Linked DNA regions of Homo sapiens. The protein of the gene in region 2 purifies or fractionates together with the protein of the main gene of each other region. This does not show direct contact. Each region holds a gene or a part of one and is shown on either strand. Other genes may lie near its edges.

The links. Proteins that work in one complex are often made in the same cells at the same time.
Region 1: the proteins of RAET1E (region 2) and SDK2 purify together in Homo sapiens (affinity purification with mass spectrometry; 2 studies listed by BioGRID and IntAct, with this or other methods). This does not show direct contact.

The regions. Positions count from the first base shown.
Region 1 is NC_000017.11:73,395,610-73,400,580, reverse strand, and holds part of SDK2 (protein sidekick-2 precursor), read left to right. Parts: intron 1-1,291; coding exon 1,292-1,413; intron 1,414-2,151; coding exon 2,152-2,261; intron 2,262-2,395; coding exon 2,396-2,546; intron 2,547-3,098; coding exon of another isoform or gene 3,099-3,173; exon of another isoform or gene 3,174-3,538; intron 3,539-4,971.
Region 2 is NC_000006.12:149,887,258-149,892,228, forward strand, and holds part of RAET1E (retinoic acid early transcript 1E isoform 1 precursor), read right to left. Parts: intron 3,778-4,971; 5' UTR 3,645-3,777; coding exon 3,560-3,644; intron 2,908-3,559; exon of another isoform or gene 2,889-2,907; coding exon 2,628-2,888; intron 2,367-2,627; coding exon 2,091-2,366; coding exon of another isoform or gene 2,083-2,090; exon of another isoform or gene 1,411-2,082; coding exon 1,241-1,410; 3' UTR 1-1,240. UniProt on the Homo sapiens protein: Binds and activates the KLRK1/NKG2D receptor, mediating natural killer cell cytotoxicity.

The DNA.
Region 1 (4,971 bases), on a different chromosome or scaffold from region 2:
GGTCCCCTCAGAGCAGGCGGAATCCCTGGGATCCCAGGTCTCTGGACAGGGGCTCCCCTGGCTCCCTGCTGCATCCTCCCACAGCTCTCAGAAAAGCAGAGGCCCCCTGCCTTGTCTCATTTCCCCACCAGTCCCTCCCTTCACCCATTTCTCACCAGATTCCACACCAGGCAATGGTATCTGTGATTCAGGGGAAAATTTCCCACTGTCGCCCAGAGGGTCCACCTTGGATTCCAGCGTGTGGAAGGGTTGGTTGGGAGGTGGCAGAGCACGGTGGGGCTACTCCTAGGCCTGGCACAGAGAGCAAGCCGAGGTCCACTCTCAGCTCTGCTTCTGCCAAGCCCTACAACCTTGAGCAAGTTCTGTGTCCCCTCTGTGCCTCAGTTTCCCCATCTGTATATATGGGAAGTTGGACCAGATAACCATGTGGTCCCATCCAGATCAGTCAGGCAGTGCTTGTTTGACCTGCCAGCATCCCTCCACCTGCTGCGTAGATGGCTGGGCTGCCTGAGTCTCAGCCAAAGCCCAGTGATAATTACAGCCATGCTGGCAAATAGGTATGTAGTGTTCACGGGGCATGGTGCTGGGAGCTTTGCTCACGTTGACTCATTTAATCCTCACAACAACCCTGAGGGAGGTGTTGCTATTATCCTCTTCATTACCAAGGAGGACATGGAGGCACAGAGAGTTGGATAACTTGTGCAAAGACACACAGCCTGTAAGTAGTGGAGTTAGATTTAAACTCATTCTGACTCCAGAATCTGTGTTCTTTCTGTTGTTCCTGAGCTCCAAGAGCCCCAGGATTCCTGGCCAGAAAATAAGCTTCCCCCTGTCCCCACCCATCCTCTCACCTTCCTGAGCTGTAATTAGGCGTAGGAGGTGTGCAGGGGTCTGGGCGGATGGAAGGGAGGATCGGTCCCGTTTGGTTTCTTTCTCAGCACAGCTTGGTTTTAATGCAGCTTTTAGCTGCCTTATGATTACCTCACTCACATCCAGAACTGCCAGGAAGAAGGCGGCATCCCGGCCCCTGTTTCCTGGCCCTGAGAGCCTCCTCTCAGCCCTAGGAGATCCCCTTTGACCCCCAACTCTGTCTCAGCCTCCTGGCATGAACATGGTTCTCCGTAAGACACAGGAACAAAGACTGTGGGTGGAGTGGGGCCGTGGCTGTGCTTCTCCTCAGACATTTCCAGGAAAAGCGTGACACACAGCCCCCTCCATGCCCAACAGTCCCGTTCAACATGGGGGGCCATTCTCACCGGATCTCCTTCCCCACCCTGTTCTCCTTTTCCAGAACTCCCAGGGCCCCCCACCAACCTGGGCATTTCCAACATCGGCCCCCGCTCTGTGACCTTGCAGTTCAGGCCAGGCTACGATGGGAAAACCTCCATCTCCCGCTGGCTGGTGGAAGCCCAGGTAGGGCAGGCCTGGGGCCTGACCAGCAGCCCCCGCCAGGGCACCCCGTGCCCTTGAGTGCAAAATCTTATGTGTATTTCGGCCTGTGTGAATTTTCATGTGCAGCTCTCAATGGCCCATTATACTCCAAATGCTCACACTTGCCAATGTTGTCTCCAACTCCCCCTGCCCCTCACCTGTGTACATGGAAAAACACACACACACTACAGTCCCCTCCTGGGTCGGGGGGTGCCTAGAAAAATACCCAGTTGCTGGAATATAAAAATATCCGCCTTGGCTGTACCCTGGAATCATCAGGGGAGCGTTCAGAAGCGCCAACACCTGTGCCCCTACCCCAGAAACTCTGATTCTGATTTAGCTGATTTGAGGGGCAGCCTGGGTCTCTGGAAGTACCCGGGGTGTTCAAGAGAATCACCTGGGCTGCTTGTTAAAAGCACAGATTCCTGGGCAGCACTCGAGGGATTCTGTAAGTAGTGGAGTTAGATTTAAACTCATTCTGACTCCAGAATCCAGGAATATATTGATCACAAGCATCCTGAGAGATTCTAAGGCAGGAGGGTTGAGTCACACTTGCAGTCATGTTTAGGGGCCTGGAAAGATGGTAGCCCCATATGGTGCCCTCCAGATGAGCCCTGGGTTCTGAACCAACTTCTTCCCTGGCAGGGCTTGTACTGGGGCTCGGAGCACCCCGTGTGGGCCCTGTAGGCTGGACAGGCCTAAGATCCTGCCCTTTTCCAGGTAGGCGTGGTTGGGGAGGGAGAGGAGTGGTTGCTGATCCACCAGCTCTCCAATGAGCCCGATGCCCGCTCCATGGAGGTGCCCGACCTCAACCCCTTCACCTGCTACAGGTAATGAGACTGGCCCGGGGAGAAGGCAGCAGCCTCAGGGCTGGGGGTGGGTGGGGGCTATGGCCCAGACCAGGACAGGGTTGAGAGTTGGGTGAGCTGCCCTTACCATCTTGCTCATCTCTCCCCAACCCCAGCTTCCGCATGCGCCAGGTGAACATCGTGGGCACCAGCCCCCCCAGTCAGCCTTCTAGAAAGATCCAGACCCTGCAGGCACCCCCTGACATGGCCCCAGCCAATGTGTCTCTGCGCACAGCCAGTGAGACCAGCCTGTGGCTGCGCTGGATGGTAAGGCTCCCTCGAGGGCAGGGGTGGGACCTCTCCATGAGCTTCTGGTCATTGCCTCCTAGAAGGTGCACATCAGAATTCCTACAGCTCCTTTCTCCTCTCTTTCTGTTTTCTGATGAGATGCCTGATAATCAACATCTTAGCCCAACGAACAAATGCCCCCCCGCCCGCCGATGAGAGGAAGGAGCTCAAAAATACTGTTTACTGAGCATCGCCAAGTGGCAAGCATTTTAAATTTTCATCCCATTTGATTCTCCCAATAATCTTACAAAGGATACATGATCATCCCAATTTACAGCTAAGAAAACTGAGGCTCAGAGAGGTTAAGAACTTGCCCACAGCCACACAGCTCCCAAGCGGCGGGTCTGGGGTTCAAGTGCCACTGTGGCATTCAGAGAGTGTCCCCAGATCCGGGCTGTGTGTTGAGGGTCCTGACCGTGGGCCATCCTGCACGAGGTAGTGACAGTAACACACCGAGGCTTCCTCTCCTACCAGGCGCTGTTCTGACAACAAGCCTGTGACAGCAGAGTGATCCTGGTCCCCCTTTTGCAGATGAGGAAACCGGGGCAGAAGAGAGGTCAGATCACTCGCCCAAGTTCTCCCGTATCCTCCCACGTGCTTTCATGAACAGCAGGGCTGAGGTCCCAACCCGGGGAATCTTTACCCGCAAGTCCACAGCCCTAACCATCGGGCACACTGCCGTCTCATCCTCTGGAGAACAGGCCACTTCTCCCCACCAGGCCCTCTGGAACATCGTTTCCCAGCACGTGTCCCACAGAGCAGCAATCCCAGGAGGCGTGTGGAGCAAACAAGAATTCTTAGACAAATAAATGTGGGAACAGCACCACATACCACAGCTCCATAGAGAATCCAGGAACACTAGCATAGCAGGAGCCCTCTTGACCCTGCTTCCCCAGGCCCATCTGACCACACAAACCCTTTGTTTCCACGTAAGATCTCACTCATTGTGCAAAACACAACTTGCAAACACACCACACTGTGAAGTCATTATTGCCGTTCCTGTGCGCGGACAGCTTGATGCTAGCGGCCATGAAAGCGCTTGGCGCCGTCAGTCCTCGATAAATATGAGTTATTGATTGCAGTTCCCTTCCCAGAGTGGCTGGTGCCTGAGCAGAGCTGCAGAGCTGTCTCGGCCCACCTCAGTGCCCCGTGCACAGTGTGACTATACCCACCTCCTGCCTCTTTGCTCCCAGGCATCCCCACCCCAGGCTGGCTCCCTGCTTCCTTCCTGAATCTCACTTTAAGGTTTGCAGCTACTAAAAGGTTAGAGCCTGATGCGGAGGGCAGGGACTGCATGGGGGAATAGAAAGGCAGCTGCCATGTGGCACAGGGCCCTAGACACTTCTCAGGCCCACGCTTAATGGTGCGTGGTCCATTACCTTTCCTCAGCAGGTAAAGGAACTTGCACTTAAGCCCCATCTCCGGCTCTCAGGACCATCGATTGCTATCTTAATGGTCTTTGGTCGGCTTCACTAAGTGTCTGCAGGAGGGAGGAAGCGTGTAGTGAGCAGGGGAGGTTGGGGCCGAAGGTGAGGAGTGGGGTAAAGTGGGTCAGCCTAGGGTGAGCCTGTGGACCAAGGGCCCTCCAGAGCCCCTGGGGAAGCAGAACTGGGGGAGGTGAGGGCTGGAGATGCCCCCACCCCAGCTCTGTGCCCTTCAGAGTAGTGGAGGCCAGGCCCTGGGCTCCCCTCCCTGTGTGCACACCTCCACTCTCACCAGCACTGCCCATGGTCATCCACACAACCTTAAGCTGGTGACCACAGCCCCATCAGCCTAGTCCTAAGGCCCCAAAGAAATCTGACTTTTCTTTTCTGTGAGACTCAAACAAGAAGGAGGAGGCTGGTTGGGCGTGGTGGCTTGTAATCCCAGCACTTTGGGAGGCCGAGGCGAGCAGATGACTTGAGCTGAGGAGTTTGAGATCAACATGGCGAAACCTCGTCTCTACAAAACTTAGCAGGCATAGTGGCACACGCCTATAGTCCCAGCAAGAGATTGCTTGAGCCCAGGAGGTAGAGGTTGCAGTGAGCTGAGACAGCACCATGGCACTGCAGCCTGAGAGACAGAGCCAGACCCTGTCTTAAAAAAAAAAAAGAAAAGAAAAAGGAGGCTGAAAATGCAGCAGGAGAGGCTGAGGTTTGCTGGACAGAAGGACTTCCTGACTGGCAGGTGCCCCACTCATCCTGCTCTCTGCCCATGCTCACTCAAAGGCAGGCATGAGCTGAGACCAGGTGCGGTAGGCAATTAAGTGTGTGCTGGCAGCCTGAGTGACAGAGGTAAGCAGCAGAGACAGCAGAGCCAAAGGTGGCGGTGCTATCGGTGTGTCAGACACACAGCCTTTGTGGCTCCTGACTCCCTTGGCAGGGTAATAGATTTGTCACATACACAATAAAGAAAGGATGCTGCT
Region 2 (4,971 bases):
ACTATTGTCAATGGCACTGAAGTCCCAGCCTGCTTGGTTGGGGCAGTTAAGTCCTTCTCAGTCACCTTCCACCAGGGATTAAGGTGGGACCCCTTTGCCTGCAGCTCTGTGGGTGGGACCCCTTCCTATCTCAGCATATTCACTCCCTGGGTTCCTGCTGCCATCACACCACCCACCACACGAGCCCCTTCTGGACCAGTGGCCCTTATCTGACTCAAGCCATATCTTGCCAAGCCTGTTGTGACACCGATCTTGGCAAACTCACTTTTCATGTCAGGGCCCCTGCAAAACAGACACATATCTGAGTCATGGTATTCGTTTAAGCAATGAAAAGGGTAGAATCATTTCTTACATCAGAAACATTGATCCTCAGTGAGTCAGATGGAGTAGCCTATTTTTCTCATTAGAGGGAATCCTAACTTTGAACTCCACAGAGAGAGCCCCAGGAACTGTGACTTGAACCCTAGAGCTCTACTTAACTTTTCCAAATTGCTGTACTTGAAAATGTTGAGGTCTGCCTGGGTCAATTTAGAGAAGACACTATGAGGACAAAGACAGCAATGGAAGAAAGAAATGAATTCTTCATGTCAGAGCAGTGGCGGAGAAACAGGACCAAAGAGCAGAAGATGTCTGGCAATGTGTCTGGCATATAATAGTTCTCTCAGCCAGGTGTGTTGGCTCCCCCTGTAATCCCAGCGCTTTGGGAGGCCGAGGCGGGAGCATCACCTGAGGTCGGGAGTTCAAGACGAGCCTGACCAACATGGAGAAACCCCATCTCTACTAAAAATGTAGGATGTAGTTCGGCACTGTAATGTTTAGAGGGTGGTGAAAGGATTTCTTATACCACATCTTGTATGTTATCTGGGAGTAAATGCTGCAGCCACAAGCGCCACCAGCAAGTCTTCTCAGGGTGAACGGGAAAAGGGGATGGGACCTGCTGAGCTAAATCACGGTAAACGCAGACAGCAAACAAACTTTCCGTCAAAGAGCTGGATGAAACCTGGGCCGGATGGCAAGGAGACAACACCCCAGGCAGGCGTTCCAGATCTTTGACCTTGCCCCTCCTCGAGAGGAGATGATTGCTTCATCCCTCCTCTCACTGCACATTGTGCTGCCAGCCCTGCTGTGTAGTGTGGGGGCTCAAGACTAAGGCAGTGCACCATTTCTGTGGAGAGAGATGGATCAGGGAGCGGGGGCTTGGATGAGACCCATGATTCACCTCTCTTGAGTCCTTACCAGACTAAGACGTCCTCAAGGGCCAGAGACCAGCCTGCCACTCACCATTTTGCCACCAGACACAGATGAGAACAATTCCCATTAAAACTAACAGGATGAATGCCCCCAGGATGATCCATCTATCTGGTAGACTAGAAGAAGACCAGTGGATATCTGAAGCATTTACTGGTGACACTAAAAAAAAAAAAAAAAAGAAAAAAAAGCACAAGCCCTGTCACATAAAAAAAAAAAGCATAAAAATATGCTTTCCTTAGCCCCTGCTTTCCCCAGGAACACATGGTGCCCCACATAATCACTGGCTCATGTGACAGCCACTCTACCAGGCCCTGGGCCATGAAGATGAATAGGGGTTGTGCCTTGTCCTTATGGAGCTCAGATTTCTACTGAGAGAGGTAGCAAATATCCATCTGATTACCACACAGTTTCACGATTACTGTGGTTAGAACTGTTTGGAGGATGACACAATGGGTGGTGCTTAATTCTGTGTGGGGAAGGTGGGGAAGGCTTCCTAAGAAGTGGCATTAGAGCTGGTGGAAGGGTAATTATAATAGAGGAAGAGAAGGCCTGGATGTTTGCAATGACACAGATAGACTTGGGACCATTTAGCAGTGGGTCATTGTGACTGGATCATTGGTTAATGGGAAGGGGTTTCTACACTGAGGAAGAAACAGTGGGAGGTGGGATGGGAAAGGGAGGATGGTGGGAAATCCTTATAGCCATCACTGACTCTCCAGACAGGAAGCCCACGGAGAAGTCAATCAAATTTTCTATCGCACACACACACTGACACCCACACAGGGAAGGCTTTTGACCTTTAAAGGGAGCTGCCACATTCTCCCACCCAGCTCAGTTACCTGTCGGTTCTGGCATTGCCTCCCAGTGCCCTAAGAATTCCCTGAGCCAGTGATCGCAGTCTCCCTTTGAGAGCTTCCTGAAATACTTTTCCAGCCCTCTGTCTTTCTTCCATGTCTCCTTGATCTTACTGGCTTCATGATTAATTACTGTCCAGGTCATGTTCATTGCGTCAAAGAGGAGGGATTTCTCTCCATTGGTGGCGAACTGCCAGGATGCACCAGTGCACCGTTCTGCTTCACGTTGACAAAACATCTCGACTTGCAGAGTGGAAGGATCTGCAATCCAAACACAAAGCCATCATCCTCCACTCTTTGAGAAGTCCATCATCCTCCAATAGGTCAAGTGTTTCTCTGCACATTTAGGGGTCTGTATTCTTTCTGCCCAGACTTGCCCTTTCCTGCCCATTGGGTCCCATGTGCCTCTATGGTTGGGCCAATGATCAATACACAGATATACCTAAAGCCCCTCCCCATCTGTGTTCTTCCCTCCCCTCTCTTACTGCCTGCCTCTGTTTGCCCACCCCATTCCACACTTACCACTGGTCTTTATCTGGGGTTTGATGTCACAAAGGAGCATCCTGAGGTCTCGCCCCACTTCTCCCAGCGTTTGGGTCAATTCTCCCCAAGTGCTGGTGGCATATACCTTCTTCCCCAGGAGGCCCAGAGGTTTGACCATGTTGTTGTCACTGTTGTACTGAAGGAAAAGATTTTTATTCAAGAAGACCTGCGCTTCACACCAGGGCTGTCCAGGTCTGGACAATGATTTTATAGTGAAGTTGAAGCAAAGAGAGTGACCACCTGTGAGACAAAGATGCAGGTGAGGTCCAGGACAGGGGAAGAGGCCCATTAGAACCTGCGCTTCTGTGACCCAAGACTCCCTGGACTGGGCCAGGCTAGCAGAGGCGGGGCAGCTCCATCCCAGACTCCCTCAACCTTCTGGATCCCTGTTCCCATCTCTCCCTGACTGTCTGGGATGAGATACTTGATGGTACCAGGGACCCCTGGGGTGCACTTAGTGTTAATGGTGTTAACAGGAGGATTCATGTCACAAGTACTTTTAGCAACATCTACCAAGTTCTGAGGCACAAAACAGACAAGCCAGTGTATGACCTCCTGAGACTTAAACTCTAGCTGAACACACATGACATTCAATAGAAAGGAAAAAGAGGCATTTATCACAGGACACACGCTGAATTCCTGTGGGGTCCCAGATGTTCAGGAAAGTGACCTGGAGTAGAAGGCGGGGGGTAGCATTGTAGAACTGCCCTCTGTGAGCCAGTGCCTTGCCTAGGGCCTCAGGCTGTGGTCTCCCATGAACTGGGTGTAACATCCCAGGGATCCTCTTCCTCACGTCATCCTTAAGAGCAGGCACCCACTTGTCTGAAGCCTGCATGAAGCCCCATTCGCCTACCCCCTACCTTTCTCCCTCCTCCTTGTCCTCAGCCAGTTCTTGTGCTCAGGACACTCACCAACCATGATCTCCAAGGCTATTAGTAGCAACAGCAGAAACAAAAGAAGGCGCACAGGGCTAGAAGTCAGGGATATTCTTCGCATACTGTGGAGAGTAACAGGCAGGAAGCTGGGCGTGTACACATTCACCCTCACTGGTATGGTGAAGAAATGTTATCCAACAGCGTGGGTGTGGGCACTGCCCAAATTCTTTACCCTGGAACAACTGAGGTCAGGCCTGTAGAGACCCAATTAAAGAACAATTTTGTGAAGAGAGTGTTTTCCAAGTATTCAGAATATAATCATTTATTGAAAAATAAAAGAAGACATTTAAAAACAAAATTAACTTTGAATAAACTCTCTCTCCTCTCCTGTCCCTGCTGCCCCTGCAAAAAAAACCCCCTCTGGTGTGAGCAGGATGGTTGGAGGTTATGTGAGCTCCTTCTCCTTTCCTCCAGTTTCCTCTTCCCTTCTCCTCCCTGCCTCTTTTGCTTTTCCCTTTCTTCCTGGTACCCCCTGCCCATTCCTGTATTTTCTCCCATCGCCATTCTCCCCTCTCCCACTGTCCCTAACCCGTTCAAACTCTTTCCTCTTAAATGGTTGAGATTTTCTCTCACCAAGCACACCCCAGTATTAATTAAACTAGCTGCAAACAGGCAGCAAGTGGTCTACCATGACAGATGGGTTTTGTGTGTGTGTGTGTGTGTGTAATTGTAATAAAACATATTGAGTCACTCAATAAACACAGAGTGTCTACTACATGTATCAGGCACTATCATAGATGCTAATTAACGAAACTGAAATGGCCAGGCCCTCACAGTGGCTCATGCCTATAATCCCAGCACTTTGGGAGGATGAGGCAGGAGGATCACTTGAGGCCGGGAGTTCAAGACCAGCCTGGGCAACATAGTAAGACTCCATCTCTACAAAAAAAAATTTTTTTTTATTATACTTTAAGTTTTGGGTTACATGTGCAGAACGTGTAGTTTTGTTACATAGGTATATACGTGCCCTGGTAGTTTGCTGCACCCATCAACCCATCACCTACATTAGGTATTTCTCCTAATGTTACCCCTCTCCTAGCCCCCCACCCCGTGACAGGCCCTGGTGTGTGATGTTCCCCTCCCTGTGTCCATGTGTTCTCATTGGTCAACTCTCACCTATGAGTGAGAACATGTGGTATTTGGTTTTCTGATCTTGTGATAGCTTGCTGAGAATGTTGGTTTCCAGCTTTATCCACGTCCCTGCAAAGGGCATAAACTCATCCCTTTTTATGGCTGCATAGTGTTCCATGGTGTATACGTGCCACATTTTCTTAATCTATCATTGATGGACAAGTTTTGCTATTGTGAATAGTGCCACAATAAACATACGTGTGCGTGTGTCTTTATAGCAGCATGATTTATAATCCTTTGGGTATATACCCAGTAAT